Linked DNA regions of Homo sapiens: region 2 is linked to region 1. Evidence: fine-mapped expression QTL. Tissue or cell type: lymphoblastoid cells. Region 1 holds a variant in brackets; the other region holds the start of a gene. All regions are shown on one strand. Distances are from middle to middle.

Region 1 (15,996 bases):
TCATTCTGGAAAAGGCAAAACTATGAAGACAGTAAAAATATCAGTGGTTGCCAGGAGTTAGGGGGAGGGAGGGATGAATAGGTGGAGCACAGAGGATTTTTAGAGCAGTGCGACTACTCTGTATGATACCGTAATAGTGGATGATATCATTATACATTGGTCCAAATACCAAGAGTGAACCTAATGTGAACGATGGACTCTGGGTGGTGATGATGTGTGAATATGGGTGGGTTCATTGACTGTGACATGTATGCCACTCTGGTGAGGGTGTTGATCACTGGGAGGCTGTGCAGAGGGTATATTGGAAATCTCGTCACCTTCCTCTCTATTTTGCCATGGCCCTAAAACTGCTTTAAAAAATTAAAGTCTTAAAGAAGACTATGTAACTTTGTAATTCTACGTCCAGTATCTGTTTAGTAGAAACAGTGGGAAAGGAAGCACATGTGTGGATAATCCTGGAGAAAATGGAAAGAACCCAAGAAACCTGGACTTGGCCAAAGAAAGATGGAGCCCAAGAGTTTGAGCCCAAAGAAAATAACAAAACAATCAAGGACGAAATTTACCTTCAAAGCTCAGACTGAAAACGAAAACGCCCAACGTTCAACCTTGTTTTTTGTTTTCTTTTCTCAAGGCAGATCCCAGTCAGTGTATTTGCTTCTACAAAGCAACATATGAGGTTTGACAAGCAAGAACCCATTGTTAGGAGTGACGGCTCATGGAGAACACTGAAACTACACTGCTGTTATTCTGACATTTTTAATGCCACTGCTTTTCTTTCAATCCTCAGACATGTATTCATCATATTAAGAGTTCAACATATCAGATCTCCCGGCAGCAATGGTAAGAGTGTGGGCAGTAAAATTTGGCAAACTAAAGGGAAAAAATGTATCTTTCACCATTCAAAGAAACACCACAGCAGCTCGACATTAGATTTATGGAGTTACCCTACCTGCTTTTCCCCAAAACTTAATGAAACTTTTCATAGGTCTTTCCAACACACAAGAAGCTGTTAAGAATTCATGGTCTATTTCGCCTCTCAGAGAGCCTAACAATACATATTCCCTTTTACATTGAATGTTGAGTGTTTTACTTTTCTCCACATTCATCCTCTCTCCAAAACTAAACCCTCTGCCCCTCCTGTGGCTGGAAGTGTCTGCTCTATGGGTGACCTCTCAGCTACAGCCTCAGTCTCCTATGGCCTCCTCCTCTTCCTGCGTTTTATGGATAGTCTGTCTGTTCTATTTTTTTAAATGCTGCATAGGAAAATCTACATCTGACCCCATCCTTCCAATGATTGCCTAGTTCCTTTTAACAAAACTTTTATAAGAGCGTCTATTCCATGCCATCTCAAGAAATCTGTCTTTGATTCACCTCATCCTTCAGCACACCAGACAGGTGTTGGTGTTTTGGCTTATATTTATTCTACGCCTATTTTCTCTCTAGTCTTGTGTGAGTCTGGGTGTCCCTCTAGCCTGCCCAGATGACTACTATCATTCCAAAGGAATAATATTGCCCCTGCTGTTGCCCCAGATTTTCTAGTGCCATGCTACATATACAGTAAATCAGTCAGACATTAGGTTGATAATTCCCATGGGCAGGCAGGCAGGCAGTCTCTTCCATTCACTGCTGTACCCCTAGCACAGTAAAGGGCACATGGTACACCCTTGACAAACCAATAAACGACTAGAGACATGGGTACTCCATGAGCACATACAAAGAGACTACTAGGTCACAGAGCTGTGTGATGAGCTCTGGGTTCTAAGCCAATTTTTACTGGATGCCAAAACAATCATTCCGTTTAATCAAAAACTCAGCTAAGTAAATAAAGTAGCTTTGGATGATAACTCAAAGTATAAAATAAATAACCACGAACTCATACGGATATCAACAAATGATTGAAAAAATAAATGAATTGAAGAAAAGAGACAAATGTTCTGTGCAGAAAATTTCAAATAATTTCTGTAGATACTCTGCCCTCAAGGATGGGGAGTATTAACTCCCCACCCCATAAATGTGGGCTGCAGATAATGACTTCCTTCCAAAGAGCACAGTATGGAAAGTGGGGACATAGAGGAACTTTTCCTCTAGGTGAATGTATTTGTCGAATAAATTTTTGGAAAAAGAAGTTTGGGTCAAAGGGCATTTGCATTTATAATTTTAGTAGGTATTGCCAAATTCCCATAGAAATTGAAACCAATATATGTTCCCATCAGCTTTTTTTTTTTTTTTTTTTTTTTGAGATGGAGTTTCATTCTGTTGCCAGGCTGGAGTGCAGTGGCATGATCTCGGCTCACTGCAACCTCCACCTCCCGGGTTCAAGCGATTCTCCTGTCTCAGCTTCCCAAGTAGCTGGGACTACAGGTGTGCACCACCACGCTCAGCTAATTTTTGTATTTTTAGTAGAGGTGGGATTTCACCATGTTAGATAGGATAGTCTCGATCTCTTGACCTCATCATGAGCCCGCCTTGGCCTCCCAAAGTGCTGGGCCCTTCAGCTTTTAATAAATGTCTTTCCTCTACTCCATTGCCACCAGCATATTAACCTGTTAGGTTTGTTTTTTTTTTTTAAACAACCTGGGAGTTGGAAAATGAAATCTCAGTATAGTTTAATTTGCATTTTAATTATCATGAGTGAGGCTGAGTATCTTCTCACCTATCTAAACTTCTGTGATCTTGTCTGGAAAGTGTCATTTTCCCAATAGTTGGTCTTTTTTCAATTGACTGTGGGAGCTATTTAGGTATCAGGTATTCTTTGACGTTGTATGAATTAACAAGTACTTTCCCCATTTGTTGCCTTACAAAGGCCACTATAACATGGAATTTAGATGTATTGCCAACTGACTGTGTTGGATCCATTTAAACACTTTGTTTTTATAATTAAAAGCCGTTGGTAACACATACTGTTTCATCTCCTGAAATGACTTGAAGAACCATATATTGAGATATAAATATAAATGTTATTTTGATTCTTTTGGTAGCAAATAAGTAGGATTCACCCCCCCACCCTGCTCTATTTTGTAGAAGTTTTATTAAATGCCTATAATCCTATTCATTAATTATAAAAATAGAATAACAGATAAATTTAAATATTTGCTCTACATAAACCTATTTTGAATACTCTGGCAAGATCTAAAGCTTGTTTACTAAAAAGCCTTGGTAAAACCAACAAATTATACATACCTCATGAATATAGTTTTCAAGAGTTTTTTGCTCCACAAAAAAAGATCTGCTATTAGGATTTAATAAAATTTTACTGAAAAATATATACTGCCCTTTCTGGGATTAAGCAAGCACCTGGCTGCTGGCTGACACTTCAGGGGACATCAGCATCAGCTCTGTTCTCCGATGTTGTGTGTGGCTGGGCCTCCACCCCAGAGCTTTGCAGATACACAGTTCAACAGCGATGTTCCCAGTAGCTCGACACCAGAAAGGGACAGTGATGGGGCCTGTTCCGTCACATCACGGCATCTCACCTGCCCTCCTGCTCTCTACCTGCATCGAGGAGTCTCAGAGAATCCCACATGACATGAACCTTGAAGCCTCAGGGGTAGGCCCTCCAGCCCCTGAGCAGAGGCCGCAGAGTTAACGTTTTGAAAGTGGTTTTCTGTTGCTAAAAAATGTGTGGTTTATCACAGCCCTAAAAAATGTCCAATGATTGGGATTATCCCCCTTCTCCTTTCCTGTGTGCCTTCAATTAGCTGAATGAAAGCAAACCCGTGGCTTTAGAACCTGAAATAGCTGGAGAAAAGTGATGCAGATTTCAGGCGAGATGAAAGAGTGGAACCCAGAAGCCTAATTAAAAGCAACTGAGAAACCAGTATTTGATACGGCGTTCACTCACCTGAAAAAATAAACCAAGAGCTCCAGCAAGCTTTGCTGGAGGGTTGTCGGAGAGGGGCTGAGACGTTGCACTCAGGTCACAGGAAGGCCCGACTCGCAGGACACAGAGCCTCACTATTTCTTTCCTCTTGGAGTCAGGGGAAGGTCAGCCAGCCCGCCGAGGCCACCAGCCCGGCCTGCTTGACAATAGCCAGTTAGCCAGCAAAACTTTCCTCCAAGGTGGCAAGGGTGACAGCTATCCATCCCCAAACGCATTGCTTTTTTAAAAATCTTGAAATGTGCATGATTTGTTCAACATCACTTTCCCCCTGATTTTCCCTGCTTCTTTTTCTTCTCACACTTCTCTTCCTCCTGCTTTTACTACTCCCCATGTCATCTTTCTTAAATGCAGGGCATTTCTGTACATTCAGCTTATGGTTTGTTTTTGATGGCAGAAACTATCAAGGACTCACTGAAAGAATTAGTCCTCCTTTACCAAGAGGAAAATTCTCTTGGTTTTGAGATAAATCAAGGCCCAAGGTCAGTCAAGGGAGGAAATAAATAAATGAGCCTCTCTTTCATACATTGCATATTTTTAAACCTACAAATCAGCCCCCCGAATGGAATGCTGGCATATAAAAGCAGCATTTGGGATCCCGCTAAATGCAACTGCCATCACGTCCAAGATTTTAGTTGGAGGCAAGAAAAAGGACTTAATTTTAATTGCTGGGGGAGACGTCCTTCATTCTTTTCCTTTCCAAGTTTGATATTCATGACCTTGGGTAGGATGGGAGGTGGGGAATGTGGAAAGATGGATATGGGGTCGCGGTGGTTTTATTACTGTAAGTAACTGAAACAACAGCCCCGTTTTTGGAACAGTCTGTTCAGGAAGCAGAGACTAGATGCTTCCCCCTCAGTGGGGTCACAGTTGGCTTTTCTTGACTTCACGCGTTGTCGGATGGGATCCACAGTGAACTGAGGTTATCAACACCGAATAGCAGCTACCATTTCACATTGCAGGATGCACTTCAGAAACCACACACCAGCGCGAGGATCTCACATGGACATTACTGTTGTTATCTCTTAAATGCTTTGGGAACACCAAGGACCTCTCACTTTGTTGGGTATTGTAGAGAGGTTTTATAGGAAGTGATGAAAATATGGCCTTTGTCTGTAAGGAGTCAACCATCTTAAAGTAACATGTTTATATAAACACAAACATTCACCGTTGTTCCCAGAGTTCACTTAGGTTGGTCATCTTCCTTCCTTCCCTTCCTTCCTTCCCTTCCCTTCCCTTCCCTCCTTCCCTCCCTCCCTCCCTTCCTTCATTCCTTCCCTCCTTCCTTCCTTCCTCCTTCCCTCTTTCCTACTGTTTCTCTGCCTCTCTGTGTATTTTCTTCTTTTCTTTTCTTTCTTTCTTTCTTTCTTTCTTTCTTTCTTTCTTTCTTTCTTTCTTTCTTTCTTCCTTTCTTTCTTTCTTCTTTCTTCCTTTCTTCTCTCTTCTCTTTGTGTCTCTCTCTTTCTCTTTGCCTCTCCTTCCCTCCCTCCTTCCTTCCTTCCTTCTTTCTTTCTTCTTCTCTTTCTTTCTTTCTTTTCTCCTCCATTCTGCTTCTATCTTTCCTGACCTGGTTTCCCATCATGAAACTTCTCTGCCTTAAGCTTAGGGCCAGCATTTAAAGATCACCCTCTGTACAGTACAAGAGGCTATTTGCTTTGCCAAATGATTTCTTGCTTCTGTTTACTTTGGGGACCTCACAGACAGATTTAATCAATTGCATTTATCAGTATAATCTGTTCAAGGCTCCTCTCCTGCTGTATTGTTTTCCCTTTTACCCCTGATTTCCTGGCTATCCCCCTGCTTCTACCCCCAGACCCAGTGTAAGGTGTTTTATACAAGTCCTCAAATAACCAAATAATCATGGATTTTTTTACATAACATATTGGGCTGTTTTGTATGTGTATGTGCTTTAATTTACATAAAGGGCATTATGGTGTACATTGCATTCTTTTTCTTACTTTTCCCACACGTTCTGTCCATGTTGATGCAGAGAACATCACAGTGCACACAGGCCACATGGGCCTCTGCCGTCACTCCACATGCATGGCAGTGGCTGGCTATGGGAAGGGACTTCCTTCTAGAGAGACAAGATGGAGAAATCAGAATTATTGGTCCCAATTGGGCCAGCTACATAAAACAGCAGGTGATATGAGGGCAATCTGTGTAATTTTTTTTTTTTTTTTTTTGAGACAGAGTCTCGCTCTGTTGCCCAGGCTGGAGCGCAGTGGTGCGATCTCGGCTCACTGCAAGCTCCGCCTCCTGGGTTCACACCATTCTCCTGCCTCAGCCTCCAGAGTAGCTGGGACTACAGGCGCCCCCCACCACGCCCGGCTAATTTTTTGTATTTTTAGTAGAGACGGGGTTTCACGGTGTTAGCCAGGATGGTCTCCATCTCCTGACCTCGTGATCCGCCTGCCTCTGCCTCCCAAAGTGCTGGGATTACAGGCGTGAGCCACCGTGTCCAGCCCAATCTGTGTCCTTGAATAAATGTATCACCCTGGTGGGAGCTAACTGAATGCACTTGGGACCCCTGCCACATGCCCATGTGGCTCCCCGGAATTCCCTTCACGGCAGGTGCCACAGGCGTAATTATACCATTATTGTGGTGCTCATTGGTGAACATCTGAGAGCTCCTAGCGGACGGGTCTATGTTCCCTGGTTCACTGCTGCATTCCCAGGGCCTGGCTTAGCGCCAGGCTGATGTGGGAGAATCACTGGAAGCCAGGAGGCACAGGTTGCAGTGAGCCGAGATCATGCCACTGCACTCTAGCCTGGGCAACAGAGTGAGACTCCGTCTCAAAAATAAACAAATAAATAAAAACAAAAACAAAAGAGGTGACACTAACTACTCATAAGTCATAAGGTTGTTTCAAGGATTCTTTGCAGCCTTTTATGCCACTCTGGCTGAGTGTTGCCATTTTTTATTGGGCCCCCAAAGTGGGAGTCTTTGTCCTTAGATTCTGACATCCCTCCAAGCATGACACCCCATTTACATGATGCCTTCTTTTAGTTCCCCAGTGTCCCCTTTTCTCCAGCAACCGGAGGTGTACAATGTTGCCCCCAAAAGATCCTTTCCAGTAGACCATCATCAGCACCCCTGACTCCCCCTCACTCTGGTCTTGCTGAAGCTCTCTCCTGGGAAAGGTGGATTCTCCGATCAACTCTACAGGGAGTTTAAAAGGGCAAGCTCTGTGGTGACCACCTCCGGGCTTATTTCCTTGGGATGAACTTCAGGAAGTGAATTGTTGGCCAAAGAATCTGTCTTTTACATACTGCTTGCAATAGCTCTTTATATTTAAGGACGCTGGTTCTGTATCTGGAATACATATGGCAGGTATTTTTCTGCTTTGTGAAGTGACATTTCATTTTGCTCAGGAGATTTATGGAATTTATCACATGCAGTCAGAGATACTGGTAATTTAGTTTACAATCCCCGACTTCAATGTTGTTTTTAGAAAGGGCCGTTCAAACACCCAAATTATATAAATATTTAGCTAAATTTCTTCTACTACTTGTAAGGTCTCATTTTTAACACTTTATCTCTTTAATCCATCTGGAATTTATTTTGATATTTGGAGTAAGGTAAAAAGCTTAATTTTTTCCAGATAGGTAAGTAGGTTTCCTGGTACATTTAATAATCTTTCCTTTCCTTGTTTATACGAAGCGCCAAAGTTATCTTATATTAAATAATGATATGCACTTGTGCCTGTTTCTGGATTTTTGAATGATCTTTCTAAATCTGCTCTGTCTCTTTTTACATTAACAGAAACCTGTTTTAACTATGTAGCAAAATACACATTAATATGTAATAATAAAAATACACTCATCATCATTTTCAGGTATTGTTATTAATTTTTCTTAGTTATTCCTCCCAAATTATTCCTCAAGTTTAAATTTGTAATCACTTTTTAAAGTTAAAGAAAATATTGGGGTTGTGATGGAGATTGCATTAACACTTTACGTTCCATTTGAGGATAATTTACATGGATGTACTATATCTTCTCACTCAGCAACATGATCTGCCTTTCCATTTTATTGCCTTTTTTTTTTTTTAATCTTAATAAAGTTCTTGGCCAGGCACAGTGGCTCACGTCTGTAATCTCAGCACTTTGGGAGGCCAAGGTGGGCAGATCACCTGAGGTCAGGAGTTCGAGACCAGCCTGACCAACATGGTGAAACCCTGTCTCTACTAAAAATACAACAATTGCCC[G/C]GGCACAGTGGTGGATGCCTGTAATCCCAGCTACTCAGGAGGCTGAGGCAGGAGAATCACTTGAACCTGGGAGGTGGAGGTTGCAGTGAGCCGAGATCGCGCCGCTGCACTCCAGCCTGGGTGACAAAGTGAGACTCAGTCTCATAAAATAACATAAAATAAAGTTTTTAAGGCTTTTTTCTAAATAAATACCTTCTATATTCCTCTTAAAATAAGTTTAATTTGTAGACAGTTCACATTTTTAAAGCTATTGTGAACATTTTGCAGTTCTGTTTAACATTTTCAACATATTTCTTTTTCATAACTCTCTGCTGCTAGATGCCTCATTACAAGAGCTAATTGTCCTAAAATATTTTAGGCAATGTTCGACTCATTTGTTAGTATCTGTGAATAGCTCTGAATTTCCTTATCCCTGAGGACAATTTTCTGTCACTTCACCAATATTTACTCCTCTGTCTTCACCCTGTTGCTTCTTGACAACAGTAAATAGGAGTGGTCAGCATGAGCCTCCTCTTCTTAACTTTGATAGAATTGGCTCTAACTGACACCATCAAGTATGATGTTGGCTGTTGGTTTGAAATATTCTTTATCATATTAAAGAAGTATCCAGTTTTGGCTTTCTGAAAGTTTTCATTCTGAAAGGATGTTGACTTTTACCAAATGCCTACAGTCTATCTGCTAAGACCCTTAATGGGGGCATCCTGTGTTCATCTGCTTTGATCAGAGACACAGATTGATTTGCTGCCATTAATCAGCCTTAAGTTCTAGAATAAACCCTACTTAAGCGTGAGTTTATGCATTGATATTCAAAGTTTAGATTTACTTATAGATTCTTTTCTTTTTTGCTCCTTCTGCCAGTAAAATTACCTGATGTGACTTTCCTATTTCTACATGTTTTTAAATTATTCATTATTATTATTCCCTAAAAGCTTAAAAGAACTTGCGCATAAAAAAAGTGGTTTATAGAACTTTTTGAAGCAATTTATTTGACATCTTTTCTCAATTTCTTCCATGGTATTGGTCTGTTCTAATTTTCTATATTTCTTTCTTCTCAATTCAATTGCATTTCAATTTCCCATTTTATTACCACAGAGTTATACATAATTCTTTTTCATAATATAATTTTCAAAATGTGAAGGCTTATTTCTGCCTCTGTGTTCATAGACATCTCAGTCTGTTCAGGTTGCTGTAACAAATCACCATAGAATGAGTGGCTTATAGACAACAGGAATTTATTTCTCACAGTGCTAGAGGCTGGGAAGTCCAAGATCGAGGTGCTGACAGATCCTGTACCTGGCGAGGGCCCTCTTTCTAGTTTGCAGATGGCCATCTTCTTGTTGTATCCTCAAAGGCAGAAAGAGAGATAAAGAGCTCTCTGGGTTCTCTTGGTAAGGGCACTAATTCCATCATGAGGGCTCCTCTCTAATCACCTCCTAAAGGCCCCACCTTCTAAGACTATCACCTGGGAGGCTAGGATTTCAACAGGTGAATCCTGGGGGATGCAAACCTTCAGACCAAAGCAATAGAGGACATGGCTAACATGAAGAAGAATGAGGGAAGAAGGTAAGACATCTCTCCAGGCCTCAGTGAGATGCAACCCTGTGGTGCTGAGAAACCTAAGGAGCCAGAGGGTTCTAGTAGCTCAGCCCTGTGTCTCGATTGCTCACAATGAAGATGGGGAGGTGTATGCTGTGAAAGCCACACACAGCTTGGTGTAGCCAGGTTGGCCCAGGGTATGCTGCAGTAACAAGCACAATTTCTCACTCACGCTCCATGTCTTATCTGGATTACAGACAGGCTGTGCTCATCAAAGTCCCCCAGGGTCCCAGGCAGACGAGGCTCCTACAGTTATCATTGGCCATGGACAGGATGTAAAGAATAGTGGCCTGACACTCACAGCTTCTGCCCAGAAGCAACACACACCACATCCTCACCTCCATTGCCAAAGCAGGCCTGTGGCCATAGTTAACTCACAGAGGGTGAGGCACAAACCTGCTCTGCACTGGAAGTGAGAGCAACAGCACCAATGACTACCACTGGCTCTGAAAAAATCAGCTTCACCTACTCCCTCACGTTGCCGGAGCAATGTCCACCAGCTTAGACTTCTGCGGTTCACAATTTAACCCCCAAAGTGAGTGATGTAGTATGTTAAGGTTTCTGGAAGAGAAAAGGAGAAATATTTTGGGGGGAGTTGGGGTGGATGTTGCCTTTTCGTGCTCATCAAATCATTCACCAGAAGTGACTGCTGACTTTGCTGGGATGTGGCCATATAAGAAAGGACGCCATGACCTTGGGTAAGCATGAGAACCATGAGCTAATTAAAGAGCATTTCCAACTGTCAACTGGTGGTGTCATTATAGGAATTATTCATTGCAGTTAAGGACATCTAGAGCTTTCCCAAGATGGGGTAGTACAATGGTGAATTACATGTGTCAACTCGGCCAGGCCGTAGTACCCAGTTGTTTGGTCAATACCAGTCTAAATGTTGCTGTGAAGGCATCTGTTAGACGTGATTAAGATTTGAATCAGTAGACTGAGGAAAGCAGATGACCCTCCATGATGTGGGTGGGCATTATCCAATCAGCTGAAGGACTTAGGAGGAAAGGCTGAGGTTTCTGGAAGGAATTCAGTCTGACCGCTGCAACATCAATCTCCTAACTGAATTGCCAGCCTGCCTGCCTGACAAACTTCAGACTTGCAGGGCCCCACAACTGTGTGAGCCAATTCCTTAAAATAAAATTTCTTTCTCAATGGATAGATAGATTAGACACAGAGAGAGAGAGAGAGAGAGAGCAAGCAATCCTATCCGTTCTGCTTCTCCAGAACACCCTGACTAATGTAGGAGGCCCCACAAGAGGCAATTATTTCTTGTTTGCAAGGCCACTCAATAGAGATGCTGCAGAAGAAGTGTTTGGGCATTTCTGGGGTAAAATTTGGTAAATATTAAATACTCTGTCCTCAGAAGAAACCCATACACCCATCCATTGTATGTGCACACACTTTTGCTTATGATATTAGTGAGTTCAGTCTCCCGGAAGCTTATTCCCACCCTTTCTGACTAACATGGAACTGTGATCCTCTCAACCCTGCAAAGTTATTTTGTGTCACTGAACCATCAAAGAACCTTCCTTTTCATAGTTCTCCCCAATCTCCCATGACTTTGTTGCCTCATGCACCACACACAGAAGAGATGGGTGTGACCATGAGCGTGGGGAGGTTGAACAGTGCTGGCGTTGGACACAGGGCAGGAGCAGTGAGGGGCAGGCCCACCTGCAGGGGGCCCTGCAGTCAGCCACACACGGCGCCACTCCTGTTGCGGTCATGTCACCCATGCCACCATTGCTGCTGTGTGCCTGTGTGGCTGCCCAGGTCTGTAAGACAAGTAAAAATGATCACCAGGACAAAAGAATGGCTTAAAATATTTCCACTTAAGAGAAAACAAAAATAAATGTCAGGACCAATCCTACCCATGGACGAGGCCTTCAGACACAGAGGCCACCAAAAGCTAGCTCCTCTCCCCAGCACTTGGCTCAGATAGGCCCTGCCCAAAGGGAGCGCATGGGCACTGAGGAAGGTCCGGTGACCCCCAGCGCGCGCACACACACACACACACACACACACACACACACACACACACACAACCTGTGGCTGTGTGTGGCTGGGCAGTGGACACTAAACTTAGGTTGCCTTCTCTTTGAATAAATACAGTGTTTGTGCTTCCACAAGAGTTAGTTCAAAGCGTCCTCAAAGAATCATCCTAATATTATAATGCTCATGAAATCCAAAATGACAGACCCACTTTTTTTTGTTCATATTCAGACAAAGAACAGAAAGGTGAAGTGACTTTCTCAGAATTAGAAGAGAGTACTGAGAATAGAACTGTGGTCTCCTTGCTCTAAGTGTAGAATTAAATCAGTCTCCGAACCTGACGTATAACTGGCCCTTGTGTGGACTTTTTGATCCCCTCTAATTCTCTAATGTGTGTCTCAGAATATTTTGGATCTGGCTTTATTTTCTTAAAGCAGTAAAGGACCTCCTTATGTTTCCATTCACTTTATTTTAACAGCATTTTTTTTTCTTTTAATGATTTTTTTCCCCCGGAGCTGTTTCTACGTGGAGGAAGTGCGGTATAGCATCTAGAGGAAGCCATATGTCTGTGGTCCATTTTCTTTGACTGGAGAGACTGAGTGGTCTCAAATAAAAAAACACTGCTTGCCAATTGTCAGGCAGGCAGGTCAGGTGATGAGGAATTGGGGTGAGGGGCTGTGGTCTCCGTGGCCCCTAATCCCTCTCTCTCCCACAACCCCTCCCACCCATAAGGGTGTAACTCTCTCACTGGCTTACATGGAGCCTGCATCTCTCCAACATAACACTTCTCACAGTTGCAATAAAACAGTTGTGTGTGTAATTAATGGTTTAATACTTGTCTCATGAAAACATGACCTATGCAGGCTGGCATCATGGGCAAAGAATCTGTGCAGCCGCACAGGGTCCCTGAAGGGACCCTCACTGGATTTAATGCTCTGCTGTTGCTGTCTTGAATTTTTTTTTTTTTTTTTTTTTTTTTGAGGTGGAGTGTCGCTCTGTCACCCAGGCTGGAGTGCAGTGGCGCTATCTTGGCTCACTGCAATCTCCACCTCCCAGGTTCAAGTGATTCTCCTGCCTCAGCCTTCTGAGTAGCTGAGATTACAGGCATCTGCCACCACACCTGGCTGATTTTTGTATTTTTAGTAGAGATAGGGTTTCACCATATTGACCAGGCTGGTCTCAAACTCCTGACCTCAGGTGATGCACCTGCCTCAGCCTTCCAAAGTGCTGGGATTACAGGCATGAGCCACCATGAAATTCTTGAAATAAGCCTGTCTTTAAATTCTTAGCAATTTTTTAAGGGCCCTGCAAATCAAGCAGCCGGCCCTGGACCTAAGTCCGTCTTGTCTTTGTTGTGTCCCGGGCTCAGCACCGTGTGGACAGCAAACACACAGTGATTGTTAAAAGTTGTTACTGAATAAACTCATGAAGATGAGCAAGGACAAACTTGGTTATTTCAGTTAAGGCCGATTCTGGAAGAGGGGAAGATGAGCAACGCTTCCAGAGTTCTCAGGAGGCTGACTCTGACATGGGGGTTTGTGTATGAGAATCCTCAGGGAGTCCTCAAGCATTGGCCAAGGTACAGGTTGGGTGATGCAGTCACACAAAGAGTGCCTGGGCCCCCATGCAGGCTGGCAGGGCCCTCGGGGTGGCTGGGGCTCAGTGACCAGAGGCAGGTTGGCAGGAAGGAGGTGTGCTTCCCAGCAAGGCGGCCCTCCAGCCTGGTGCAGTGGTTCTCAGCCGGGGTGATTCTGCTTCCTGGGGACATTTGGCAATGTCTGTGGGCATTTTGGGTTGTCATGACTTGGGGAGGGCTTCCAGTGGGTAGAGGCCTGAGAGGCTGCTGAGCACCCTCCAATGCACAGCTGGCCCTCCACAACAAAGGACCACCAGCCCTGAATGTCATCAGCCAAGGGCAAGCCTTGCATGGCTGGGCCTTACTTCTTCCCAGACATCTGAAGGCAGCATTTCCATGAGCCTGGTGGGCTTGATTTCCTGGGGGGAAATGTGTAAAAGGACAAACCACAGCCCCAGCCACTGCAAAGGGTGGGAAAGCAACAACAGGTGTTCCCCATTCCAGGATTCCCCATGCTCACCGGGCACCTTTGCTGGCCTTGGTGGCTCACCTAGTGGCACCGTCTCTCGATGCCAGCCCTGAGAGGGGCTGTAGAGCCCTGTAGAGCAGCTGGAGTTCATTTCTGGCTCACACTCATGCACTGTGTGATCATATCTCAGCATTGCTCCTCCTTCTTGAGCTGGCCAGGAAGGACCCCTCCCCATAAGGGTCTAGAGGTGCTTGAGGGAGAGGCACTGCTGCCACCCAGTGGGCGGCCTGGGGTCTGGGCACCTGCCCAAGTGGCTCCCCCATGCCTCCAGCCTTGCACACTCTCATGTTATGATGGATGACTTGGCTGGGCCCATCCAACCTTACAACCTGGGGGGATCTGAGAGAACTTAGCTATGATGGGCAGTTCTGGCTTTAGGGTCACTTGGTGACACAACTTTGGCACTCTACCAGGGTCTCCTAGCTTACTGGGAGTTGTTTTCCATGACGTGTATAATTCTCCTCTTCGGGTGGCACGGCCCTGGTCTAAAGCCCTTGGGACTATGTTGGAATTCTCCTACTGGGGCTTGTCATATATTCTATGTAGCATCTTTCCCCACAGATACCCCCATACCACAGAGTCTGCAAGGTTGTATGGCTAAGTGACACTTCCTTGTTCCACATCTTGATCTCACTCCACTCAAAGCTGACATCCCTTTGCTTTTCTTGGTATAATGGATTAAACTGTCCGCTCCATGCAAAAGAGGTATCCAAGTCCTAACCTCTAGTACCTGTGAATGTGACCCTAAAATAGTCTTTACAGATGTCATTAAATTATGAATCTTGAGATGAGATCATTCTGGATGTAGGGTGGGTCCTAATATAATGACAAATGCCTTTATAAGAAAAAGGAAAGGGAGACCTGAAACATATAGAAATACACAAGGAAAAGGTCACATGAAGATGGGAAAGGGAGATCTGAAACATACAGAAATACACAAGGGAAAGGTCACATGAAGATGGGGGCAGAGATTGGAGTGCTGCTTCTACAAACCAAGAAATGCCAGGAGCCTCTAGAAGCTGAACGGAAGGATCCTTCCCTAGAGCATTTGGAGAGACCATGGCCTTGCCAACACCTTGATTTTAGACTTCTGGCCTCCACAACCATGGGAGAGCAGGTGTCTGTTGCTTTAAGCCCCCCGTTTGTGGTGATTGGTTACAGCAGTCCTAGGAAATACCATAATACTATATGGCTAGGTATGAAGGATGTTGTCTCCATGGCTTCTCAGGTGCTATGCCTCCTTCATGGCGGGAGGTGTAAGAAGCAGTAATGTGTCTTTAACTTTGGAGGGATGTCCTGGCATTCCCAGACTGCTGGATCTTATAACTTTTATTGATGTGGTGGCCTCTAAATTATCATGGAATTTATCTCCCACCTCATAGAGTGCATGGGTCTTACTATAGCATCCAACATACTTGCCATATCTTGCCTATCTGCTCTAATTAGCAAGCAGTCATCAGCACAGTGGGCCAGTGTGAGTTTCTGCAGGTGTCCAATGTCCAGGCCTCCCCAGGCTATATGATCATAGAGGATAGAAGAGACATCATGGCTCTGTGGCAGAACCGTACGTGTGCAATCTTGTCTGATCCAAAGGAATGTGTATTGTTTCTAATCCTTTAGGCATAGAAAAGAGGATCAATGGCTGTATTGTTAATCTGCTTCTGCAAGATGCCACATCTGGCACTGCAGCTGCACTTGGGGAGTGCCTTGGCAGAGTTTGCAGTTGTTCACTGCTGTCTTCCAAGACCTGTCTTGTTCTTCTGGGGAGTGACTGGTGGGTGACATGGAGATTTGATAGAGGACTATTAATTCCAAGTCCTTTAGGTTTTGAAGGGTGGCACTCATCTCTGCCATCCTCCCAAATGCAATACTGTTTCTGACTTGCTCCTTTCACTGGGGATGGGCAGTTTCTGAGGGTTCAGCTTGGCTTTTCCTGCCCTGATAGCCGATCCACAGGCCCATGAACCAACATGAGAGTTGTGCCAGTTATGAAATATGTCCATGCCAATTATACACCCAGGGACAGCGAAGATGACTACGGGGTGGGTCTGTGGGTCCTGTGGACTCCTGTAGCCCAGACCTGTGCCAGGACTCCACTTATTAACTGGCCTCTACATGCCCTGCTCCATCAAGGTAGCAGTGGGGACATAATGACATTCGGGATCCCTGGGTATTAACATCAATTTGGGTCTTCTGTACAATCATCCTCAAAATAG
Region 2 (15,996 bases), 160 kb before region 1:
AATCATCCTGGATTTAGAGTGTACCTTAAATCCAATGACAAATGTCCTTACAAAACACAGAAAAAGAGAAGACGTAAGGACACAGAGAAGAAGGCCACCATGTGAAGATGGATGTAGAGACTGGAGTGACATAGTCATAAGCCAAGGAATGCCAAGGGCCATCAGATGCTGGATGAGAGCATCGCCTTGTTGATACCTTGATTCTGGTCTTCTGGCTTTCAGAACTGTGAGGATAAAGCTCTGTGTTCTGAGCCACCCAGTTTGTGGCAATTGTTACAGCAGCCACAGGAAGTGCATCCAAGGACCATGAGATCTGTGGTTCTGGCTGCTGGTGCTTTTATGGCATTATTTTAATGCACCCTTGTATTAAAACAGCTATGTTAATGTACTGTATTAATGTACTTAAAAAATTTTTAAATAAAAAGATTGACATCTACTCTATACCAACCATTTATTCTGGCCAATCCCTTGTATTCTGGAGTTCCACTACCTTTCTTTCTATTCAATGGCACAAAAGGTTATTTAAGACACTTTAAACTTTTATAAAAAGAAGAATCCATAGCCACCTTGTTTGGGGGCCAGCTTGTCAGGGGCTCTCCTCTCCAGATGATTAGAGAAAAGCCCCACACCCAGTTACGCCACAGCCCTTACCCAGGGACAGACGCCACTTTCTGTCTTCCAACCACCTCTCGGAACTCAGCCTAGCTAGGCAGAGGGCAGTTATGGCTTCTCATTTCACTCTCTTGATCTCCAAAGACTTGTATACTCTATCTGGTTCACAAATAATTGATTCTTTAGGAGTGTTTTTGACTATGTATATATTCTATGACCTAGGAATCTATATTCCTTCAAAGCAGCAAGTAGTGCAGGATGACGAAATGCTAGCTTACTTTTTCATTTTCAGCAGCACAAGCTCATTCTTCGTATCATGAATCATGGACATTTTTTTCCTGGCCTCCAAAATTAACCCAGAGCAGACAGAATCTTCACTGTTTGTATCATGTGATCCAAATATTTTTGGGAGAGCAAAATACCTGAACACTACTGCTTAGCCATACAAACCAAAGCAACTATGGCGTAGACAATGAGCTTTCTATTTCACTCAGTTAAATTCTGCTTATCCTTCAAAACTCAACTCCGCATCCCCTCATCTAGGAGGTGAAATACTGGATTTCACATATTCTGAATGCTGCTTCTCTACGCCCACTGCACTTGGCGTATAAGCGTGGCACTGGAAGTGGACCTGCTCCCCTAGCCTTCATCATACTGCGCTCCCTCTGAAGGCACAGGAACAAGCTTTTCAACCCTCAGCCAATGCCTAGCATATGCAGGAGCTTCAATTTTGACTGAATAATAACTACAGGAGGGAATTTTTTTTTAAAAAAAGAACACTTATTTCACTTTAATGGGAATTTATCACTTACATGAGTATACTGTGTGACAACTCACAATTCCTCAAGTGCAATCAAGAACGGCTAAGCGGCAGCTTGATTAGTTTCCAAATCCAGTGCCCTGCTCACCTCCTCTCACGTGCAGTTCAACAGCCTGGGACTTCTCTGTAAATGTTCTAGTTGCTATCTAGGGCACCAAAACATGACACAAGAATACAAATGCACACCAATAGCTTCCTGGAGAGAGAAAGTAAGTATATGGGGTTGGAAGTCTTTTCTTTCAACTAGATTAGTGTCACCAAATCTGATTTATATGCACAAGGATGTATATAGAGCTGTCAACAGGGATTGGAAAGCAAAATTTTACCTAAAACAACTAAAAGACATCCCAATCCACTCTTAATTATCCCTGACAGTTGGGGTGGCAGGTACTTGTATTCGGAAATCACTTGTAAGAGTTCTTTCTGTGGCCTATGATATCTCCTAACTTAACTTCTTGTTAGAATTGCTAACAAGTTGACCAATTAATGGTTTTAAGCTTAACATTCTTTCATTTTACTCTGCTTGCTGCTGATGAAAAGGGCAATAGTATTAAAGAAAAAGGCTCTTGATACCTGGGTAATTATCCCTTATGCTGGATAATGCAAAACATATTAAACTACTTTTCTCATATCGAAAGCTAGGATTTATTCATTTCCAAACCATTCACAAAGCACATAATGTGTGCCAGGCACTGTGCTGGGGATATGAACAGGGACAAGCTCCTGTCCTCACAGTCTTCCCAGGAAAGCGGGGGACACAAGATAGCAAATATAATTGGGATCAAGTCTAAGCAAGCGGTAGTGGAAATAGTAAATCATTTACTGGATATGGGAAGTTTTCTCTGAAAAGCAATTTTAGCAGATAAACAATCTCTAGCTCATTGTTATATCAGTTTCAATAACTAAATCTTAATTATTTCACTTGATCTTCTCAAACTTTAATGTGCCTGCAAATCACCTGAGGATTTTTAATAATAAAATATAGAAATTCTTCTCACAAGGATGAGCTCCTTGGCTGCCGCCTTTCTCATTTCCTTTAAATTCCTGCACGGCAGTGACTGGGGAGAGGTGAAAAAACCTGAGGGTATCTGAGTAACAACTGATTATTATTGACTTCATGTCATCAATATTAATTATTGATTTCATGTTCTATTTCATGAACTGATGACATGAAATCAATAAAAATCACCCCAGACAAGTACACATGCAGAATATTAAGTTGCAGATACATTACGATAACCAGTACACAGAGCAAAGAACACACAGAAACATGAAACATGTTAGGATTTCCCCCCTTTTCTTTCAATTTGTCTTTACCATGTGGTTCTATGCGTCTGTAATGAGAATTCTGTTACGGGAAACCTACACATGAGTATCCCACATCTGAAGTGCCTGGGACCAGAAGTGGTCTGAATTTCCTATTTTTTTGATTTTAGAATATTTGCATTATATACTTACCAGATGAGCACCCAAAATCCAGAAATCTGAAGTGCTCCAATAAGCATTTCCTTTCACAGCATCATGAAGGTGCTCAAAAAGCTTTAGATTTGGGAGCATTTTGGATTTCAGATTTGGGATACTCAACCTGTACTACATATGAGGAGCTGGCAGCCCCCTTAGGCTCTGACAAATGCCCACCACATAAAGCACTTCTGAGTATGAGTCCATGTGGCTGATACCACAGGTTCCACACACTGCTTGTGGCCACAGATGTAATGGCTATCCCCATCACAACGGTATTCCAAAACAAGGCCACTCTGTCCTACCCAGTGGTCCACGGGCCAAATGTTTCAATGCTTTCATTAGACACAGCAGAATTCTCCCTCCATCTCAGACAGGAGCAAATGGGGCCAGACACATAGGGAGAGCCTGGTGAAACCTAAACCCTGAGCCTAAACTATGCCTTGTACTTTAATCCTCACAGAAAAGTGGCTCCAGAACTTGGCCTCAGGGCAGGCACGAGCAGCTGCAGAGTCCACAGCAGGAGGAGGTGGGCAATAGCCTCTCATCACACCAGATTATGTTCCATGGCAGTATTTCAGCCAACGTATGAACAAATACCATCTGAAGAATATGTTCTAATATTAAAAAAAAGGAAAACCCCTGACCCAAGAAATCAAATTATCTATGATATACACTTGGTGCATTAACGAGCTCATGTGGTACTCATGATGCAGAAATAGGTCACTAAAAGGATAGGGACAGCCTATAATGTCATATTCAGTTAACATTCCTTTACTTTCATGAAACTGAGTTTCAACTACACAAAAAGGATTACATAATTTTAAGGTTACAAGTTAATTTTTACTTGATTTTTTTTTTTTAACAAAATGCTAAACTGCAGGTTAAAAAGAAATTGAAACATGAGTACAATGCTCAAAAGAGTTGTATGGTAAGTCTAGAAAGTATTTATCTATCTATTTGTTCTATTCAATGAGGGACATAAAGCCTTTCAAATCATCAATAAGGCTTCCCATAGAAGCCTAAGCACAAAAGCAAACACCCAAGAACCAAAACAACAAAGCAAAGTTAAAGCTTGAAGAATTATAGAAACACATATTAGAGGCTGGAAAATGCATCTTCAAGTGTGCAGGGATAACTTTGTTAGGTATAATCGAACATTTCCCTCCTCTTTTATTTTCATTACGGGCGGATCAACATTTCTTCTCTGTCCCCACCCTCTCCTCACTGACGCCCGGCCCTTTCTGGCCCCCTGCCAGGAGACTCTCTGGGAGGTGTGTGCCCCCAGGACGCTGCACACTGTCAACTTACTCTGAGCTGCTGTTGCTGCTGTGGCTCAGAGGGTCAGTGGGACGGCTAGAGTCTAGGACGTGGATTCCCAGGGAGTTGATCGCTCGCATTAAAATAGTCACCATTGCCTCTACTGGAAGCTTCTCAAGAACAATCACTCGACAGCGGCTCAGAAGAGCAGCGTTGACCTGGAAGGAAGGGTTTTCAGTGGTTGCCCCAATCAGAGTGATCGTCCCACATTCCACGTGAGGAAGGAAAGTGTCCTAATCATGGGAGGAAAACAGAAAAAAGTGATTCCAGTCAACAGCCACCTGCAGAATCCTATGTAAGTTGGCTATCCCTTCCTTCCTTTTCCTCATTTTTATCTTTCGAGTTCAGGAATAGCAGCAGCCTTATATTCACTGAATATAGATGCAATATTTGGGGGAGTACAACTCTTGCTTTTAAGTCTGAAACACATCTTCTGGAATGCCCGTCCAAGCCTGATCTCTTGCTGGTAGACTAATAGCTTTAAGTAGAATTCTAGCTTAGTTTCAACATAAATGATTTCTTTACTCAGAAAACCATCTTCTACCAAAGGCTGAACTGGCACATAGCTTATATGTAACAGCTATTTATTTATAGACAAGAACACACAAAAACATTAACACTTCCAGAATCTTCTTCCACAGCAAGCACTCAATCATATTATTATTATTCCTATTATGCTGTTTTATGGGGAAAAAATACTAAGATGAGTCAGTGGTCCAATATGAAACCTAGAATGCTAACGCCTCGTCAGAACTTTAAAAGGGTCTTTTTATTCAAAAAGGTTCAAAAAAGGCTCAGTAGAGTTTTGTGAAATATTCTATGTATGATTAAAAAGTTACAAAAAAAAATTTTTTAAAGTTATGCCTAAAAATTTAATTTTTTTTTATTTAGAGTATAGCTCTCAGATCTCAGCCCAATAAAATTTTAATGTTTATTTTTTTTTAAATCCCTAAGTGGCTTTGTTTATAAAAATAGCTTGTGTCCTTTTATTTCAGAAACCCATTTAAATAAACAGTAATCATTAGCTCTTCCAACATTCACCTTGAAGACAGAGCCTGGAGTTACAGAAAATACCGATTGTTTAATTTTCAAAATAAAAATACTGTTAAAGTAATTTTTAAAAACCCATTAAAATAATGACCTTAAAATCATTATTTTACTGTTCACAATGACTCCTAGTATTTAGATTAAAAATTCCTAAAACTGGAAATTTGATTCAAAGGTGCTTTTCTGATACGTATAGCTCAGGGATATGCCAACCATTTCATTTATCAGATAGAGAAAGCATTTTCTTGTTATCAAAAAACACTAAGAAATGTATGGAGAAATAGGCTTGAAGGAGATGGGTTCACAAGCCTACGCTTCTTTGTAAACAAAGCTCGTAAGTCTCTAGCGTTTGTATAGTGATCTCACACACTTTATATTGTTTGATGTTCACAACGACCAAAAGGTAGAAGGAAGTTAATATACCTGCTGAGATTTATTGAACCGATGAATCTCATCAATAAAAAGGATGGTTTTCCTTTTGAAAAAGCTCTTTTCATTTTGAGCTTGTTTTATGACATCTCGCACATCATTTGTCTTGGCATTTGTTGCAGATAATGTCACAAACCTTATGCTATGTTTCTTGCTGTTGCTGGCTATGATGTGAGCCAGAGTGGTCTAGAAAAGATGACATACATGGAGTTTGAAAAGCTGGTAAGACACAGAGAGACCAGCACCCATGGGAACCACCACACGCAGCATCACTATTTACCAAAAGCAACTTGACCTCGGAAGAATGCTGAGCAGCACAGAAACAATCAAAAATACCACAGGACATTTAAAAACAACAACAACAAAAATATTATAAATAAAACAGGAAAGTAGCTAAACCTTAGGCTAATCCTGACCTTTTCTCCTCTGTCCCTAACCACCTTTGATTCCTTTTTGGGTGACTCTTTAAGATCTTTGGAATCCCAGTAAAGAACGGCTGTCTTGATTTAGCAGAGTGACAGCTGTGACCTCTCACCAAAGAGAAAATTCTCCCTCCTCTAGCCGAGACAGCACGGAAGGATCTAGGTGCAGAACTCATCGCAGAACCACAGCCCGAACTGGAAGCTCAGGACAGCTGAGAAAAGGAGAGTGAGGGAGCATTTGCCTTGAGACCAATGACATCCACCTAGCATTTGAGATGACTGTAGGCCACTTCTGCATGTTCACTCTGGTAGGAGATGAAGGGCAGCACTGTGGTCACATTAGCAATTACTAGAAAACCAAGGAGACCCAGGTAAAGCACTTCTTGGGTCCTCAACAAATATGTATATGCTGTTATTAATATGAATGTTGTTATTAGTACTAAAGGATGAGAAGAAAAACTGAAGACTGTTTAATGACTGTGACAAATCTGCACCTAAATGGAAAGGTGGTACTTTCTTTTCTAAAAGTTGTAGAGCACCCATTCTGTGGCTGCTTCTTTCAGAAATCCCCGCCTGCCTGCCTTTTGGAATCAGGCTCGCAAGTCACAGATGCCTAGGCTTGCAAATGACCAACGCCCATCTCACTGAGCAGCCTGGACCACCCAAACCTCTTGCCTGGCATTTGGTAGGTGGGATGAGCTCACCCACTCGTCTCCCTAAGGACCTTCTTGCTGTCTGGGGCCACCAACAGCTGATTATCCATTCTCATGATCTTATGTAAAGACTTCACAATTACTAAGAATGATACTGCTCAATCCCTTAAATGGGGTTAACAACTAAATCCATGGGGACAGACGTCAACAACTCGACCACCATCATCATAAGATGTTATTTGGGATAGATGTGGTTTATTCCTGGCCAAAGGGAAGGCATGAGTGCAAACAAGAAGGCACAAAAAGGGCAATTCATTCCAGGAACTGGAGTTAAAGGGGGTGTGCTTAAGTTGTGGGAGATAAAGCTAGAAAGAAAAATAGGAGAAAAATCATAAAAGCCTTGTGTGCAAACGAGTCTGAATCTCAAAGCTACAAGAACTCTTTACAGTTTGATCCCTGAATTCTCCCTTTCCCTTCCTGATGCTGGTTCTTCTCCCTTATTATGGATAAAAGCATCCTGTATTTAAGCACTTCTTAGCTTTCTCTGTTTTCTGGCTCACCTCCTCCATTTTTTTCTCAAGTGTTTTTCCAATGACATGCTTTCTAGACTCACAATATCCTAACTGCCCTCATCTGGAACGCTAACGCCTCACGAAGGGACACAGAACTGGACACCAAAATGCACGGATGTTTCTTCTCTAGAGTACAAGGCATTATGAGAAAAGTTACGGAAATACCGGATGAAAATGACTTGCAGATGAAAAAGTTTTTATGTTAGTTTTGTAAATACATGAGTATATTTAGTAAAATCAATATATTCTCAAGAATATAAGAATGTTAAATAAACTTATTCTTAAGAATAAATACCAGTCTGTTAAACCAACAACTAGTGGAAAAGGAAGGAAGCACAACAGAATTAATTTGATTTTTTTCAAAGCTGAATCCGTTATTATGTACAAACGGAATATACAAATGTTTCTTTACAATTTAAACATGCTGATTCCTTGCGAATTCGGTTACTAAATCAAAGTCTGGGGAGGGGGCGGGGAGACCGATGGAAGATAAAGGCAGATCAAATCTAAGAGTCCACATCTTGTAAAACTATGGATTCACAGACATCGTCCTTTTGCAAACCCGGCAAGCCTGCCTTACCAATCTGGGGGTGTGTGCCCTTTTCACACCCATCACAGACTCCACCTGTGGACCAGGCACTGCCCCAGCCCAGCCCAAGTCTGCACCCCCTTATCCAGGAGAGGCAGGCGGCTTCTTTCGAGGGCAGCACACCCGGCTCTCCGACCATCAGCTGCATCCACCGCCGAGATAACTACGGAAGCCCAACGGCCAAGGCCGCACTCACCTTGCCGCAGCCCGGCGGCCCCCACAGGATAAGCGAGGGGATTTCGTTGGTCTCCAGGAGCGAGCGCAGCAGGGTATCCTGGCCCACGGCCTTGCTCTGCCCGAAGTAATCCTGCAGCGTGTCAGGACGCATCGTGTCGGCCAGCGGCTTGCCCTGTAGCATCTGTCGGATCTCCTCGGCAGCCAGCGCCCGGGGGTGCGGGCGGCCCCCGCCACTGGCCCCGAAGGCGGTGGCGGCTTCGGCAGCGTCCGCGTCCCAGTGCCCCGGGTCGTCCTCGCCGTCCGCGTCCGCGTCCCCGTCGCCATCGCCGTCGCCCACGGCCTCCTCCTCCTCCTGCGCCTCCGCCTCGTCCCAGCTGCGCGGAGACGCGCTCCCCGCCGCGGCGGCGGCCGCCGGCCTCTTCCCCGACCCCTTCCTCCCGGGGCTGCTGGAGCGGGCCACCGGGAAGTCGGGGATAAGGCGGGCGCCGCTGGGTGTGGGCGGCGCGTCGTAGCTCTCGCGGCTCTCGGTCTCGCCGCCGTCGTCGCCCTCCTCACCCTCGCCCTCGCTGCTCTCGGCTGCCGTCGGGGTGGCTGGCTGCTTCAGCGCCGAGCTCTCCGACAGCCGCCGCCTCTTGGCGCCGGGCGGCGAGGGCCCCTTGGCCCGCTCCCCGGCGCGGTGCGACCCGGCCGCGGGCTCCGCGTGCCCCGCCGGGTGGAGCAGCAGACAGCGGTCCAGGTGCGAGTTGATGTGCGCGGCGGGCATCATCTGCTGGCACACGGGGCACTGCACCTGGTGCAGCTGCGAAAGGAAGGGGTCGTCTTCCGGCCCGCTCACCTCCATGGCGGCCGCCGCCCTCCCCGGCGCCCGGCGCGGCCGCAGCAACCCGTGCGCACGCGGAGGCCTTCGATGCCCTCCGCTAGGCCCCGCGCCGCGAGACCCTCGCTCGGGGAACCAGCAGGACGCTCGCGGGCCGGAGGAGGGCGCCGCTCATGCCTCACGTCCGCAGCTCCCGCGTCCGCCCGCCCTCGGCCGGCCGCTGGCAGCGCCTCACGCGGCGTGTCGGGAAGTGTAGTTCGTGGCCGTTTGCCCCGGCGGCGGAGGCGCCTCGCGCGGCATGTAAGTAAGTGTAGTCCGTGGCCGTTTGCCCCAATCACCGCCGAGAATACCTCGCGCGGCACTTCGGGAAGTGTAGTCCGCGGCCATTCGCCCCAGCTGCCGTGCGTCCATTTCCGACTCTGAGAACAGCCTTTGCGGGGGCGGGGGAGGGGCGGGGGGGGGGGTTGCGAGGCGAGCGTGGTGCGCGTGCGCGAGGTTGCGCGGTGGCGGACGCAGCCCTCCGCCCAGGCCTGCGAGTCGCGCGAGGGCAGGGAGGAGCCACGGACTGCGCGAGGTTGTTGGAGCGGCGAGCGCCGCTTTCCCGGCCTTCCGTGCTGGGCTGTTGAATGGGCCTGTGGGGACAAGCAGGAGGCGGCCGCAGCGGGTCGTTTGTAACGAAAGGGAAATGGGGGAAAAAACCCAAAAGCCTCCAATAGAAAACCAGTGTTCTATTGGACGTGAACAGCAGAAAAAATACAAACAAGTACGCGAGTGAAAGAAATGCTCACCTCAGTAGTGGTCAGGGAAATGAAAATAAAGCGTCCCTCGCCCCCTTTTAGATGTGTTGGCGTTTAAGTCAAGGGCGGTTCACCTACAGCGCGCTTCGAGCCAAGAGATGCTTCTCGCGGGCCGCTGTGTAATAGTGGCAAATCGGAAACACCAGCCTTCTGTCTCCTTAGCAACCAAATGATGGGAGGCGCCCGTGTGCAATTACGTCCTAGACGGATAGAAATGGAAAGAATATCAGATTAAAACAAGTGTGGTAGTCTGCATCTTTGAATGAATTACCATGTTATTTTTTGCTTTTGTCTAAGTCTCCCGTTTTAAAACATGTATCTCAAAACAGGCATTTTTGGTAACTAGAAGAGGTAAATGAATTGAGGGAGAATGAAGACTTTTCCGAAATTTGGCCAAAACTTGAATTTTTATTTCATCTGGGCAAGAGCACATTGAGGGTCTCACTCGTTCTGTCGCCCAGGCTGGAGTGCAGGGCCGCGACCAGAGCTCACAGCCTTGAACTCCTGGGCGCCCGGGACCCTTCCGCCTTAGCCTTTGGAGTCGTCCTGGGGTTACAGGCTGAGCCACCACGCCTGGCTGGCTGGTTAAGAGTTGTTTCTAACTAAAAAAGTTAGGCTCAAAAATAAGATTAATAGAAACGCTAGAGAAACAAGTTAAACTTTAATCATCATGTAACGTGAAACTACCAAAAGAGGATCGTGAGCTTTCATTATTTTTTTGAGACGCAGTTTCACTCTTGTCCAGGCTGGAGTGCAATGGCGCAATCTCAGCTCACGGCAACCTCCGCCTCCCGGGTTCCAGTGATTCTGCTGTCTCAGCCTCTCGAGTAGCTGGAATTACGGGCGTCCGCCACCACACCCAGGTAATTTTTTTGGATTTTTAGTACAGACGGGGTTTCTTCCTCGAACTCCCGACCTCAGGTGATCCGCCCACCTCGGTCTCCCAAAGTGCTGGGATTACAGGCATGAGCCACTGCGCCCGACCGTGAGCTTTTTTTTTTCATTTGTCCCTCAGCAGTGAGAGGTGACAGCATTCTGGCAGCCCTCTCAGTCCTCGCTCGCTCTCAGCGCCTCCTCTGCCTTGGCGTCCACTCCGGCCGTGGTTGCGAAACCCTTCAGCCTGCCGCTGTACTATGGGAGCTCTTTCCTGGGCGGGCCAAGGCCGGAGCTGGCTCCCTCAGCTTGTGGGGAAGTATGGTGGGAGAGGCGCGGGCGGGAACCGGGGCTGCGCGCGGTGCTTGCGGGCCAGCGCGAGTTCCGGGTGGGAGTAGGCTCAGATAAGCCTCGCGCTCGGAGCGGCCTGCACCACCGGCCCAGGACGGTGAGGAGCTTAGCACTTGGGACAGCACTTCTCGCCAGGCCGTAGTTGCCTCCACGCAGCGCAAGGCTCAGGCCTGCCATGCCTGAGCCTCCCCCCAACTGGGGACTCCTGCGCGGCCCAAGCCTCCCTGAGAAGCGCTGCTTACTGCCTCACGGCACCCAGGGCCGTTCACCACCCCAGAGCTGAGCAATGCAGGCTCATTACGTGGGACTAGCAAGCAACTCTATACTGCAGCCCCAGTTCAGAAATTAATGGGAGAAGCCAACTGGGTTTCTGAGTCTGGTGGGGACTTGGAGAACCTTTATGTCTAGCTAAGGGATTGTAAATACACCAATCGGCACTCTGTATCTAGCTCAAGGTTTGTAAACACACCAATCAGCACCCTGTCAAATCAGACCAATCAGCTCTCCGTAAAACAGACCAATGGGCTCTCTGTAAAATGGACCAATCAGCAGGTTGTGGGTGGGGCCAGATGAGAGAATAAAAGCAGGCTGCTAGAGCTGGCGATGGAGACCCGCTTGGCTTTCTTTTGCTTGTGTGGGTGTTTTGTTCTTTTATTTTTTGCATTAGCTGGTGTTTGGGTCTGAATTGTCTTAATGAGTGGTAATACTCACTGTGGAGACTTGTAGCTTTATTTCTGAAGGCAGTCAGACCACAAACCCACTGAACCCACTGGCAGGAACGGCTAACTTAAGAGATGCTGACCTAAGACCTCTAACGGTCTCCGGGAAGGTCTGCCAGTTGATTTCTGAGCCGGCGAGATCAGGAAGCTACCAGAAAGAAGAAACTCTGCACTGTGTTTAAGAACTGTTAACAGTTTCCGTGAGGGTCTATGCGTTTATTCATCAAGTTAATGAGAGTAAAAACTCATTGACTGCGAGCACATAAGGATTATTGCAGGAGCATCACAGAAGTGAATACTTGCAAAACAAGTTTTAGGGCTGATCTCAAAGCAAGGTTTTCAAGAAAAGTGTTACTAAATGTGGAAATACAGTACACTGATTTTAAACATTTATAGAGATAACGTGGCCACATGATCAATTAACCCATCCAAAAAATTTTAAAATGGAAACAAATTTCTTGAATCTCTTAATATAAGGCCTAAAATTTCTTTTTTCAGAAAATAATGCTGTGGAAAATCTACAAGTCTACTTGTAATCATTGTTAGTATTTTGGTACCTTAAGTCTCTTAGGACGTGTTTCAAGATTAGACAGTAGAGTTGCATATAGACCTAATTTTACGTCCAACTTTATTGTTAATAGGGTTTTCAAAAGTATTGTCATGGGAAACTTGTGTACTATGGGAGTAAAAATTAAGAGAGATAGAATTAATATAAACTCCGGTAATCCCAGCAGTTTGGGAGGCTGAGGCGGGCGAATCACAAAAGGACAGGAGTTGGGGACCATCGTGGCCAACATGGTGAAACCCTGTCTACTAAAAATACAAACATTAGCTGGGTGTGGCGGTGCGAGCCTGTAGTCCCAGCTACTTGCAAGGCTGAGGCAGGAGAATTACTTGAATCTAGGAGGTGGAGGTTGCAGTGAGCCGAAATCACAACACTGCATTCCAGCCTGGCGACAGAGCGAGAATCCGTCTCAAAAAATAAAAACAAAACCTAATGTATATAGTATAATGCCATTTCCTTTTTCTACTTGTGCTTTTCTATCCTATATTATGTAAATAATAAAAAGGAAAAATACAAAGCAAAGATTGTGTGTGTGTGTGCATGTCTCCCACAGCTACATACATGGATGAAGTTGAGCTATTTGGATGACCTATGAGGTGAAAATGACTCTAGACCTTGACTTCAAGAACCTGGGTTTTGAGCTGTCCATAGTGTGACCTTGGGCAAGCTACATAACTTCTCACACTCAGTTTCCAAATCTAAAGGAGGAATAAGAATGCCTACCTCACGGTCTGTCATGAGAATTAAGTGAACTTGTCAATGTGAAAGTATTTAGTAAAGTGCCTGGCACCCAGTAGGTCCTGTAGTAATATTTTTTCCTGAACCCTAGTCCCCTCTGTCTGAAGTTCAAGGTTTTCTCCACTAGGTGGTGATGGTAGAAAAATAAATGAAAAAAACGTACTTCAAAAATCACCCCTCCTCTTAGATTGCTTTGCCAATCAAATTTAAACTTTCTTTTCAGATCAGCATAAATACAAATAAATTTAAACTCGTATAGTATAAGGTCCCAGGAAATGAAATCAATGTAAAGCAGAAACCTAGGCTTCCATTTTCTCCTTTAATACCTCACTGTTTAATTGTCTGCAGCTGGCCTCGGTGGTTTACTTTTAAGTGTGTAACTATCTTCTCTGTCTTCCTTCCCCACAGTCAGAATGGGGAGGATAGATTCGGTGGTGACTCAAATAGACCTGTCAGTAACGACAAGTAGAGTCAGCCTGGCTGCAGTGCCTATGAGCAGGTATTTTATAAGCCATCTACTACTAGTGAACCTTTGGGCATGATCTTGCGCACCTTCATGTTCATACCTAAGGTATGCTGGACAGTTGAGTCCAGTTAATCCCACATGACTCACATCCCTGCCATCTTTAGTCAGCATCTTAAAAGTTAGTCGTATGGTTATCTATTCTTCCTACTCTGATTACTGCCCCCTAACCCAAACTCATGTTCCTCTCTCTTCTTGACTTTCCACTACATCTTCTGGAATCTATGCCACATTTCGTATTGTTTATTCTAACACATTTTATATATTTCCTTACTATTGTAAGTAGAACCTTTTATTTACTCTATTTTCTTACTGCCCTTTATTGGTATGAAAGAAATGCATTGATTTTTTGTTAATTTATTTCATACTTGGCCTTTTTGTGAACTCTTATTAGTTTTAGGTGATTTTCCATTGATATTCATAGTATAAAAAGGAGTATATACAGCCTTTCTCCCTGGCTCCTGGCAGAGATCTTCAGAATCCCGTGGGATTTCCTGAGTGCTAGGAGTGCCTATATAATGCTAATGAAGCAACTCCTAGTGGCTCCCTAAGGTTGGAACTTGGGACCAGCTCAATCTCAGGGGCTAGAAATTGAATTTGATTGCTTGGCCAACAATTTAATCAATCATGCCTACACAATGAAACCTCAATAAAAACTCTGGACATAGAAACTCAGTGGAGCTTCCTGGTTGTGAACATGATGATGTGCTGGGAGGGTGGTGTGCCTGGATTCTACAAGGAGAGGGCTTGGAAGCTCCATGTCTGGGACCCTCCTGCCCCTCACCCATGTGTCTCCTTTATAATAAAACTTATAAAACTATGCACATACTCCCATATATTTTAAGTCATCTCTAGATTACTTATGATACCTAATACAATGTAAATGCTATATAAGTAGTTATTATACTGTATTGCTTTTTTATTTGTATTATTTTTTGTAACCTATGCACATATGCTCATATATTTTAAATCATCTCTAGATTACTTGTGATACCTAATACAATGTAAATGCTATATAAATAGCTATTATACTGTATTGGTTTTTTATTTGTCCTATTTTTTATTAATTGTACTGCTGTTTCTTATTTTTTCCCAAATTTTTGATCCACTGTTGGTTGGATGAGAAGGTGCAGAACATGTGGAAATGGAGGGCCAACTGTATTGTCAAATTATTGGAAAGATCAGTTCTCTGTATCTTATAAAGTGGAATGTGAAAGGACATTTGACAAAAGTCTACTTCAATCATTGATTTTTAAAAATCTCTAGTAAAATAGAGAAAGTTATCTTCTTAACATGATGATTTTTGTTTTTGCCCTCAAACCAGCACCATTATCATGTTGAATGGTAAAAACATCATTGATGAGGGGAAAGGTTTATTTTTTAAAAAATAATGCACTAACCGTAAAAGGAAAAGATTAATACATCTTACTACATGAAAATGAACATCTATTTATTTAGCAGAAGATACTACAAGAGTGAAAATACAAGGAACAGAAAGGGAGAAGACATCTTAAACACACATTACTGTCAAGCACAGTGTGTAGGATGTAGAATAAGTCCTACATAATGATAAGAAAATAGGAGAAAATGTAATTAAAAGTGAGTAAAGAACATAAATATGTACTTCATGAAAAACAGAGACCAAGTGACCAAATATGTATTTGAGAACATCTTAGCTGGGCACAGTGGTTCATGTCTGTAATCCCAGCAGTTTGCGAGGCCAAGGCAGGAGGATCACTTGAACCCAGGAGTTCAAGACCAACCTGGGCAAAAAAGTGAGACCTCCATCTCTACAAAAATTTTTTAAACAATTAGCTTGGCGTGGTATTGTGCACCAGTGGTCCTCACTACTCGAGAGGATCACTTGAGGCCAGGAATTCAAGGCCACAGTGAGCTATAATTGTGCCACAGCACTCCAGCCTGGGTGACAGAGTAAGACCTGTCTCTAAAAATAACAACAAAAGAGAAACCCTTCAACTCTTTAGTAAGAGAAATGAAATTTAAATTTATAAATGATATGCTATTGCACACCCAATAGATTAGCAAAAACTAAGTGTTTTTAAAGCTATAGAGCAACAGGAGAATTCTTATAGTGCTGGTGGGAGTGTAAACTTGTGTATACATTTAAGTGTGTGTACTTCATGTGTGCACATTGGTGTTCATAGCAGCCCTAAATGGAAAACAGCCAAATGTCTCCATCAGTGAATAAACACATACATTTTGTAATATTCATACAACAAAATATTATATAATAATGAAAACTAAAGACATCTATACACACTATATACAACAATATGATGGGTTACAGACAGTTTTAACTGGGAAAAAAACTAAGAAAATAATACAAACAGTATGAATACATTCAAACAAACTAAAACTGCCAAAACGAAGCTATATATTTAGAGTGCACATGTAAATGGTAAAATTGCAAGGAAAATCAAGGAAATTATTGAAAAGATTTAGATTAGTGGTTAGCTTGGGAAGGACAAAAGGATGGGATTTTTGAATTTG

What was found.
Region 2: it holds the start of WRNIP1, and the variant in region 1 is fine-mapped to the expression of WRNIP1 in lymphoblastoid cells (GEUVADIS, PIP 0.92).

Annotation. Positions count from the first base shown.
Region 1 is chr6:2,594,446-2,610,441 of GRCh38, reverse strand. No RefSeq gene overlaps it. Among named protein-coding and RNA genes, the nearest start is that of LINC02521, 32 kb to the left of the region's middle. The variant G/C (reference allele first, on the strand shown) is at 8,088.
Region 2 is chr6:2,758,570-2,774,565 of GRCh38, reverse strand. WRNIP1 (WRN helicase interacting protein 1) reads right to left here and starts at 9,173. Exons shown (of 7, transcript NM_020135.3): 1 at 8,122-9,173; 2 at 5,684-5,875; 3 at 4,205-4,446. The coding sequence starts at 8,943. It also overlaps a transcript of MYLK4 not described here. RefSeq lists silencers at 8,253-8,572, 8,743-9,202, 9,363-9,412, 9,793-9,882 and enhancers at 9,337-9,631, 9,729-10,608.